3 linked regions of the Homo sapiens genome follow. The protein of the gene in region 2 purifies or fractionates together with the protein of the main gene of each other region. This does not show direct contact. Each region holds a gene or a part of one and is shown on either strand. Other genes may lie near its edges. The genes, in order: RLF, CNKSR2 and RALA.

Region 1 (3,835 bases), on a different chromosome or scaffold from region 2:
AGGAATACTTGTTCTTGTTTCATTTATTAGTCTAAAAAACATTTTTTGGGAAAATTTTAGGTTAAAAAAAACTTCATAGAAAAGACAAATTACACATGCTTTCTTTTAAAAATTCTTCTGGGCCATCACATCTCTGGTGTCACCAAGACTCAAGACATTAAAACATTACCTTAAACAAAACTGCAGTTGCAAGCACTAGACATAAAGCAGAATACATATATATGTGATCCTTTGACAAGCTTCAATGTGACTGGTTACATTCATTCTTGTCATCTTTCCAGGGAGACAACTCAAGCTTAGAAGCCTTACCCAAAACCCACAGTTGTTTTCCTGCACCACCCCTCTCCTTCCATTAGTTTCCCCTCCTCCCATAGCATTCTGGGTCCTTACCAATCTCTACCTTTGGCACTGGGATGCTTTCCCCACCCCAGACCTTCACGTGACTCATTTTCATCCTTGCAGCCCATAGGGTCTTACTAACTAAAGTGGCCTCTCCCAGTTACTTCTTTCTAAGCACATACTACAATTTATAATTAACCTTTTTACTTATTTTTCTAGTTAATTGTCTTTCCCATCAGGATATCCCATGAAGGCTCTCTCCTCACCATTGTCTCTACAACACCTCCTTTTCCATCATTACCAAAACCGCACTGGAAATACTGTCATTCCTACCACCTCCCACCAACTGTAAGTTCATCAAGGCTAAGTGCTGTCTTACTCATGTTTCCCCAGCACTTGGTAAAGTCCCTGGCACTATCCTATGAAGTCAGTAAAAATCTGTAAAATAAATGAGCTTACTAAACAGGGATGACTACTACTAAGGAAGCAGAGAACAACAACACGTTAACATTTAATAGTACAGGGCAATGTTGCAGGTTGTACACACAAAAATTGGAGTGGTACAATCCACGGAAAAGATTAGTAAGGACAAAATTCCATTCAGAGAGATGAGGTGCTTCTGCCTCGGCAGAGAGAGGGAAGAAAAGCAATCAAGCAAGCTAACTTTTATTCTACTCCGGACCAACAGAGCAAATTGCCCCCCAAAATTATTATTTTAGAACGCCGCAATTTATTCAGCATACTGGACTACTTATTAGACTCCAAGTACCAACATGCCACGATTATTTTGCATTTTCTAAGGTACAACAGATAAGGAGCTGATGGGTGCCTCTGAAACCTGACAGAACAAACATTGGAAGCAGAAATAATAATGGCCAATATTTGTATTTGTAAAAGACTTGAAAACATACAGAAAAATCTCGGAGTGGTCATGGAGACTAAACTAAACACACCCATAAATATGTAATCATAGGTTAGGACCCACCAAGGCACAGAAATGATCATACGACTGCCAAAAGAGGCCACACTCTACATCCCTCTTCCCATCCTCTTCTACTCAAAGAGTCAGCCTTATTCTCGGTAGCACAATCCTCTCAAAGAAATACAGAAAAGACGAAAGAACGGCTTAAACGTAAAAAAAAAAAAAGCAAAAACCAAACAACCAACCGGCTCCGCAATCCCTAATCAGAAAGCTCTAGACGCCTTTCGAAGCCAACTGTCATACCTTTTAGGAGCCCAGAAGATGTTAACTCCAAAAATAAGTCTCTGGCCCCAACACACCTCTCTGGATTATTCAGAAAAACCCGGGTTTACCAGTTCGGAGATCTGCACTCCACTCAAAAAAGGATCTCCCGGCAGGGACAAGCAATCAATCCCTCAGGGGGCAGTGGCGCTCCAACCACCCGGCCAGGACACAGGCAACGGCGACAGGGCACAGCCCTTCCAGGGACCCGCCAGGGCCCTCCGGGATCTCAGTAAGGCTCAGAGCAAAACGACCCAGCGGTGGCCAAAGTCGGGCAGTGGCGCAGGGGGGCCAGCGGTCGAGCTTCCGAGCTGGGCCTTCCCGGCCCGGGGGCGCGGCGAGTCACGGAGGTGGCGCCTTTCAGTTTGGACCCGGCTGCTTACAGAGGATCCAGGGCCTCCTTCCCTGACTTCCCCGCCCCGCCGCCCTCAGCCAGCCAGTCAGCCCCTCACCTGGCAGAAGCTCCGGCAGTAGTTCAAAGATGAGACCTCCGACACCTCTTGCTCCCTCAGCTCTGTCTCCAGCTGCCACAGACACGGCCGCAGTCCCGAGGCTCCCGGCGCTGGAGATACGGGGCGATGACCCCGAACCATGGACTCAGTCTCGACTCCATCTCCGGCTCCCGCTACCGCCGGAGCCTCAGCCCCAGCCCCGGCGACAGCGGCGGCGTCTCCCTTTCCGTCCGCCATCTTCCCACGGCCCACCAGCGCGTAGGCAACCAAGCCACGTGACTCAGCCCTGGCCCTGCCCCCGGCCGCCCGCGCACTGTGACGCACTCCTTAGCGACGCGGGCGCCCGCCTGATTCCGTCACTCGGACTCCGGGTGCTCTCAGTGGCCTACGCATCGCCAGTCCTGACAACAGCCTAGCAACAACTGGCTAGAGGCTATGCCCACCTAGACCCCTTTGAGGTCATGGGATCACGGAGCCAGAAATGCCTGTAGAGCAATCTAGATTTGAGGGGGATGACATTTGAACTGCGATCTGAAGGGACAAGAGGAAGGTAGCCCTGAAAGGAACATAGCGAAAAGCATCCCTGGTAGAAGGAAAATAAGCAAAGATTGTGAGGCCGAAATGAAGAGTAACATCAAGGGAACTTGGTTTATGATACAGACGGCATTACAAGTCAGTGGGCGAAAGGACAGACTCTTCAATAAATGGCGATGAGACATTTTTTCCAAAAGGGAAATAAATGATTAGATTTCTACCTCAAACCATTTCCAAAAATAAGGCCGAGATGGATTAAAGACCTGCAAACATTTTTCAGAAAATAAAAATAGCTTTATAATGTCAAAAATAGGGAAGAATTTTTTTTTTTTTTTTTAGACGGAGTCTCACCCTTGTTGCCCAGGCTGGAGTGCAACAGTGCTATCTCAGCTCACCGCAACCTCCGCCTCCTTGGTTCAAACATTCTCCTGCCTCAGCTTCCGGAGCAGCTGGGATTACATGCATGCGCCACCATACCTGGCTAATTTTGTATTTTTAGTAGAGATGGGGTTTCTCCATGTTGGTCAGGCTGGTCTCGAACTCCTGACCTCAGGTGATCCGCCCGCCTCAGCCTCCCAAAGTGCTGGGATTAGAGGCGTGAGCCACCGCGCCCGGCTAAGAATTTCTTAATAAGACCGGAAAAGCACAAACCATAAGGGAAAATATTTAGATTTGACTGTATTAAAATGTGTTACTTCCGTATAACAAGTTGAAAAAGCACACAAAGACAAGCCACAGACTAAATGATATTCCCCATATATATAACCATTGTTTATTGTTGTTGTTTTTTGAGACAGGGTCTCACTCTGTCACCCAGCCTGGAGTGCAGTGGCACGATCTAGGCTCACTGCAACCTCTGCCTCTCAGGTTTAAGTGATTCTCGTGCTTCAGCCTCCCAAAGTAGCTGGCACTATAAGCGTCCGCCACCATGCCTGGCTAATGTTTGTATTTTTAGTAGAGGCGGGGTTTCACTGTGTTGGCCAGGCTGATCTCGAACTCCTGGCCTCAAGTGATCCGCCCGCCTTGGCCTTCCAAAGTGCTGGGATTACAGGCGTGAGCCACCGCGCCCAGCCATAACCATTGTTTTGATTAGTATCCAAAACAGTTCCCGGGCTGGGCGAGGTGGCTCACGCCTGTAATCCCAGCACTTTGGGAGGCCGAGGCGGGCAGATCACGAGGTCAGGAGATCAGGACTATCCTGGCTAACACGGTGAAACCCTGTCTCTACTAAAAATACAAAAAATTAGCCGGGCGTGGTGGCGGGCGC
Region 2 (3,500 bases):
AAATTCCAGGGATAAAAATTTTCCATTTTTCTTTTATATTTATGTGCCCTGCAGTATCTATGCTCAAGGCTAATGGTAATCCCTAGCAATGTATAGTCTCATCCTGCCTAACATTTTTAACCCCATAGAAAGTAAGACCATCAGACAGCTTTTCTCTGGCACCCATAGGAGCAGACATTCTCCTATGAAGAAAAGGAAGGGTTCTTTCTGTTTATAGGCAGCCTATCCTCATATCCAAAAGACTCTCTCCTAGTCCCCAAGCCCAAGCTACATGAAATCAGGAATATGAATCCAGGGACAATACTTCTTCAGGATCTGAAAATGTATAGTTTTTAAAGTGAAATTTTTGTAGTTGCTGAATTTTCTTATGTAAGCACTAACTCTTATACTTGCATTGTTGTAAAATTTTGCATTAATATGTCAGATTTTTCATGAGACCTTGGTATAGCCGCATTCCAATACATCCATGTCTCTGTCTCTTAAAATGTAAGCTGGGGCCTAACTTTGAGATGTCTGCAAACTTGCCTAGTCATTAACATGACTACGTAAGAGTTCATCTACTTAAATATTACCTGGTAGAAACCGAATGTGTTCCTTGGAATGGAAGTGGTCTGTTATTTTGGCACAGACTAATCAGGGGCTCCTTTCTACAGATGAGTTGCGCCAGTCCTTATGTGGAAGCAAAACATAGCCGACTTTCCTCCACGGAGACTTCTCAGTCTCAGTCTTCTCATGAGGAGTTTCGCCAGGAAGTAACTGGGAGCAGTGCAGTGTCTCCCATTCGCAAGACAGCCAGTCAGCGCCGCTCCTGGCAGGATTTAATTGAGACGCCACTGACAAGTTCAGGCTTACACTATCTTCAGACTCTGCCCCTGGAGGATTCTGTCTTCTCTGACTCCGCGGCCATCTCCCCAGAGCACAGGCGGCAGTCTACCCTGCCAACTCAGAAATGCCACCTGCAGGATCACTATGGGCCATACCCCTTAGCTGAGAGTGAGAGGATGCAAGTGCTAAATGGAAATGGGGGCAAGCCTCGAAGTTTTACTCTGCCTCGAGATAGCGGGTTCAACCATTGCTGTCTGAATGCTCCAGTTAGTGCCTGTGACCCACAGGATGACGTGCAACCCCCAGAGGTGGAGGAAGAGGAGGAGGAGGAGGAGGAGGAAGGGGAGGCAGCAGGGGAAAACATAGGAGAAAAAAGTAAGTATGTTTCTGGAGATTCTTAGCCTGTGTACACAAAGTCCTGACCTTTTCAAACTTCTTATTTGAAGAAAATAGAACCTTGCTTCCCTTTTTTCTTAAAATAATAGTATTGCTATATAGTAAGTTAGGTCTCCCTTGGTGACCTACTTTCAGAACTTCAGTAACTTGGGAAAACATGATGAGTAATGAAGCTTATAATCTCAAGATACCCACAGCTGGAGCAAATAATTTTTTTCTCCAACTAGCCATTTGCCTTTTAAGGTTAATGGTGTTTTTGTTTTCTTCCTTCTCTTATCCACTTTATTCTCACTTGCATGCACCATCTCACTGGCCCACAGTGGTTGCCCCCTGAGTTGGGTTAAGAAACTATAAATGTTTCAAGCAGGTTGTTAGCAGAGCCTTGGTTGAATAACTGAGTATACACACACACCCACTCACATCTATACATATACATATTTATCTTCCCTTTTTATTGTCAGAAGATTTAAAGGAAAAATCCAAAAGATAGTTTTTCCAAGGAGAGATTTCACATAGCATTTCTTTCAACTCCAAATAGCTGAATTTGTTTCTAGAAACCAATTTTCCAAAAGCATCCATCTAATTTCTTGGTATGTGTGTTGATCGTAAAGCTCAATTTATGTGAATCAACTCTTATAAGAAAAGTCAATGAAGTAATCCTCTGCCTTGTTGACATTAAGAATATCTTTACTAGTTATTAAGTTCTTTATTCAACATGCCATACCAAGCCTCTGTTTATTACTAACATGACACATCAGTCCAGAAACCCAGGCTGGTTTAAGGGAAAGGCTGTAACTCAGTTATTTTAGTAAGAAAGAAAATCTAGGTTTGGCTACAAGTCCTGAACATAAAATGCACAAAACAAAATATATAGAAGAAATAGTATAAAACTGTTCACATCTCTTTATTCAAAATGCAGTCTGGGCCAATTAGCGCAGATAACTTGAGCAAATGGTGATGAAATCACAGTTACTTGTTTGGTACCCCTAGGGCAATAGACTTCTCTTTTTAAAAAGATGAAAGCAGAGTGTAGCCTTCAGCCCATTTTACAAATATATGGGACTTTGATTACAGAATATATTAGTGTAAGTTCTTCATCACAAATGGAAAAATATCTCAAAGTTCACAGATTACCAACAGGTCAAGAGCCCCATGTCAGTGTCAAGCTTGGCTCATTTAAAATGGTAGTCTCTTTGGAAATGACTGACAAGAAAATACAGTGGACCTCCCTTTATGGTGTGGATCTTCATTGCATTATTTAATATTATCTCATCTACCAACAAAATATAAGAATTGCTTGTAATAAAATTCATATGCTGTGGCAGTTTCCATGTGAAGTATATTTTAGCCATAATCTCCATGAGAAACATTATAAAAGGTACGTTGTTAGTACAGGAAAAGTAATTACCATTCATTACTTGCCAAGCCCTTTCAACATTCACATCTATCAGAGTTTATGGAAGAAATATTTAGGAGCCATGTTAGTCCTCTGCAGGAATTCTGGCAAGCATAATAATAATGTTTAATATTCTAAAGATTACTAAAATTAATAAATTGTCTTCTAAAATTTAAAGATGAGTTAGAAACTTCATTTCAACTGTCATTCAGGTACTACACAACTGCTGTGACTAAGTATGTGAGGTTTATTCTTTTACAAACATTGGAGAAAACACTTTATCTCAGCCATTTTAAGATAAACTGTGTTGAAATTAGGCACAGCCCTCTGAAATAGAGAATTCTGTTCAGAAAACATTTCATCATTCCTACAGGTTAAGTCACTAATGTTGTCTTGTTTTGAATAAGCTAGGCACTTAACAGTTCATCCTGGTCATTGAATAAGGGAAGAGTAGAAAGAAGCAAGCGTGTCCTAAGACATGAAGGGAAAATATGGCACCATGCTTGCTCATTCTTCAGGTTTCCAGTAGTCCACAGAGCACTTCTAGTTAGATAGCTTTCAATTTTTTTCTTCTAGATTATCTTTTTTGTTGTTTAGTGGATTGGATTTTTTAGCCAAATAGATGCACTCCTAAGTTGGTTGGGTTTTTTCTTTACATTTCAGATGAGTTTAGTGGGTAGTTATTCAGTGCTTTCCATCTTTTTCAGTGGGCTCTCTGTAGAATAATTGTTATAAGATAGAACAGACCTAGTAAGTGTGTCAGTAAATTTGGTATTGTACTTTTTGTCTTTATGGTTCAATATTGTGGGATGTTTCGTGCTATTTCAGTCAGATCTGCTTCACTGAAAGTGGCCTTGCACTGTCTTTCAGGCCCCATTTCTTT
Region 3 (2,759 bases), on a different chromosome or scaffold from region 2:
GGGGCAAAAACCCATGGCTTTTATGTCATCATTGTGTTCCGTTCTGTTGCATACTTTGTGTGTGGGTGTGTGTTTTATACTTTTTTCCCTTTAACCGTTTATGCTCCTTCATGTTGGTCCTATGTCCGTTTGACTCAGCCCATTCATCTTTGATAGTTTCGTTGCTTTCTGACTTAAATTTTATGCTTCTTGCTGCAGATCAGGAATCAGCCATTCATCTAAGGAACTCAGGTTCTGTTTAGGAGGAATGATATTTAGCAGCCACAGCATAGTTACATAATTTGCTTGTTGCTATTGTGTTGTCATTTTTCAGTGAATAGTTCTAGGAAATAGGTATTATTAAAAGAAAAAAATGTGATCATGTTGTTATTTCCAATTCAAATTTAACATTACAAATGTTTACATCTTTGATTTTGTACTTGTATCTTTTCTCTTACACTGAAGATCTTGGTTCCTAAATTACATTAACATAATTCCTCCCTTGCATTAATAAAATAGTTCCAAAAGAGCAACATTGCTGTCACAAACAAACTACAAAATGAAGTTTGGCTGGGTGTTGTGGCTCACATCTGTAATTCCAGCACATTTAGAGGCTGAGACAGGTAGATCACCTGAGGTCAGGAGTTCGAGACCAGCCTGGCCAACATGGCAAAACCCCGTCTCTACTAAAAATACAAAAATTAGCCAGACATGGTGGTGCCTGTCTGTAATCCCAGCTACTTGGAAGGCTGAGGCAGGAGAATCTCTTGAACCCGGGAGGCAGAGGTTGCAGTGAGCTGAGATCACGCCATCCCACTCCAGCCTGGGCAACAGAGACTCTCTCAAAAAAAAAAAAAAAAAAAGAAGTTTAAGATTTGTCTTTGTTTTGTTTTGTTGGAATTTTGTTTCTATTTTTATCCTTAGCATCTATTCTAAAATAGATACTTTCTATGCTGTCTTATAGACCTTTGAAATAATTCCTCTAGTCAGTCTTACTTGTTTGTGTCTTGTTTGTTTGTTTTTTGAAATGGAGTCTCACTCTGTTGCCCAGGCTGGAGTTCAGTGGCACGATCTCAGCTCACCGCAACCTCCGCCTCCTGAATTCAAGTGATCTGCCTCAGCCTCTCGAGTAGCTGGGATTACAGGCATACGCCACCACACCTGGCTAATTTTTGTATTTTTAGTAGAGATGGGATTTCTCTATGTTGGCCAGGCTGGTCTTGAACTCCTGACCTCAGGTGATCCGCCCACCTCAGCCTCCCAAAGTACTGGGACTACAGGCATGAACCACCACGCCTGGCCAGTCTTAATTTATTTTAATTTGATTTTCAATTTTTAGGATTTGCTATTTTGTTTTATTTTTTATTTTTATTTTTTTGAGACTGAGTCTTGCTCTGTCGCCCAGGCTGGAGTGCAGTGGCACAATCTCGGCTCAGTGCAACCTCCACCTCCTGGGTTCAAGCAATTCTTGTGCCTCAGCCTTCCCAGTAGCTGGGATTACAAGTGCCCGCCACCACACCCAGCTAATTTTTGTATTTTTTGTAGAGACGAGGTTTCACCATGTTGGCCAGGGTAGTCTAGAACTCCTGACCTCAGGTGATCTGCCCGCCTCGGCCTCCCAGAGTGCTGAGATTACAGGTGTGAGTCACCATGCCTGGCCTAATTTTATTTTTGAATACGTAAAACACCTATGTCTCTAAAGTAGAAATTCTATAACAAGATACACTCAGAGATGCCTCACTCTTCCTTGTACCCTCCTCCCTTCTTCAAAATGAAATTGATTATTAGGGTTTGGTTTATTATTTCATTGTTCTTTGTGCAAGGGCGAACAAATCCATGTATACTCCTGCCCTACACACACACACAGGTAGCGCTCCATCTGCTATTCTGTGCCTTGCTTTTTTCAGACGCGTTAGGAAAGGCCACATCAGTCATGACATACACAGGCTTCTTTACTCACAGCACTCATTGTCGCTTTCATATTTCTTGCTTTAGTCTGAGTTTTTTAATTCTATAAGTAAAAACATTTTTTAAATCCAGAATTCAAAAGTGATCATAAAAGTTATTCCTCCTTTTATCATATACTCTCAGCCGTTTATGTGGAGTAGGAGTGTGAGTGTGTAGCCTTCCAGACCCTTCTGTGTTACAGAACAGAGGAATTTCTTATTGAAATTTAACTTTGAATTGTTATACTCGTAATTTTCTTAGTTACTATGCTAATATCTCATTATTTACCGGTTCCTAGACATCAGACAAAAACTGATAAATTCTCAAATACAGAGTAACAGACAAAGTTGTTTCATAGTGTCTGGTATCAAGATGATAAAGCATACACCCATCTTCCTCAGCTTCATTTCTAAAAATGGAACTGAGGAAACCAAGTTATGAAATATAATCAAATTATTAAATATAAATTTAAGCATATATTATTAAATATAAATTAATAAAATACATTTATTGATTATAAACTACTTAAATATAATCCATTGAGTTCTATCTTTGGGTCTGTCATCACCTTATAGAACTTTTTAGACTTTTGTCTCGAAAACTGGAACAGAAAGATCAGGTTTTATTACATATGAACATTTTTACCATAAAGTGTAATTCAGAAAACTTCCTAGTTTCCTCCTTTTTTCAAGATACTAGGAAAATCAGGCTTTAGTTTTATGCTTTCCGCTCTGTACTCCCAAACAAGAGCTCTTAAATATTTATACTTCTGTTACCCCCAAAGTTTACTGCTGTGATTTGGAGAAGTACCAAGTTCATGTATCTGTTTGCTT

Evidence for each region.
Region 1: the proteins of CNKSR2 (region 2) and RLF purify together in Homo sapiens (affinity purification with western blotting, with the first as the bait; one study listed by BioGRID). This does not show direct contact.
Region 3: the proteins of CNKSR2 (region 2) and RALA purify together in Homo sapiens (affinity purification with western blotting, with the first as the bait; one study listed by BioGRID). This does not show direct contact.

Annotation. Positions count from the first base shown.
Region 1 is NC_000001.11:40,159,836-40,163,670, reverse strand, and holds the start of RLF (zinc finger protein Rlf), read right to left. Parts: upstream 2,285-3,835; 5' UTR 2,272-2,284; coding exon 2,035-2,271; intron 1-2,034. UniProt on the Homo sapiens protein: May be involved in transcriptional regulation.
Region 2 is NC_000023.11:21,608,418-21,611,917, forward strand, and holds part of CNKSR2 (connector enhancer of kinase suppressor of ras 2), read left to right. Parts: intron 1-653; coding exon 654-1,200; intron 1,201-3,500.
Region 3 is NC_000007.14:39,703,337-39,706,095, forward strand, and holds part of RALA (ras-related protein Ral-A precursor), read left to right. Parts: intron 1-2,759. UniProt on the Homo sapiens protein: Multifunctional GTPase involved in a variety of cellular processes including gene expression, cell migration, cell proliferation, oncogenic transformation and membrane trafficking.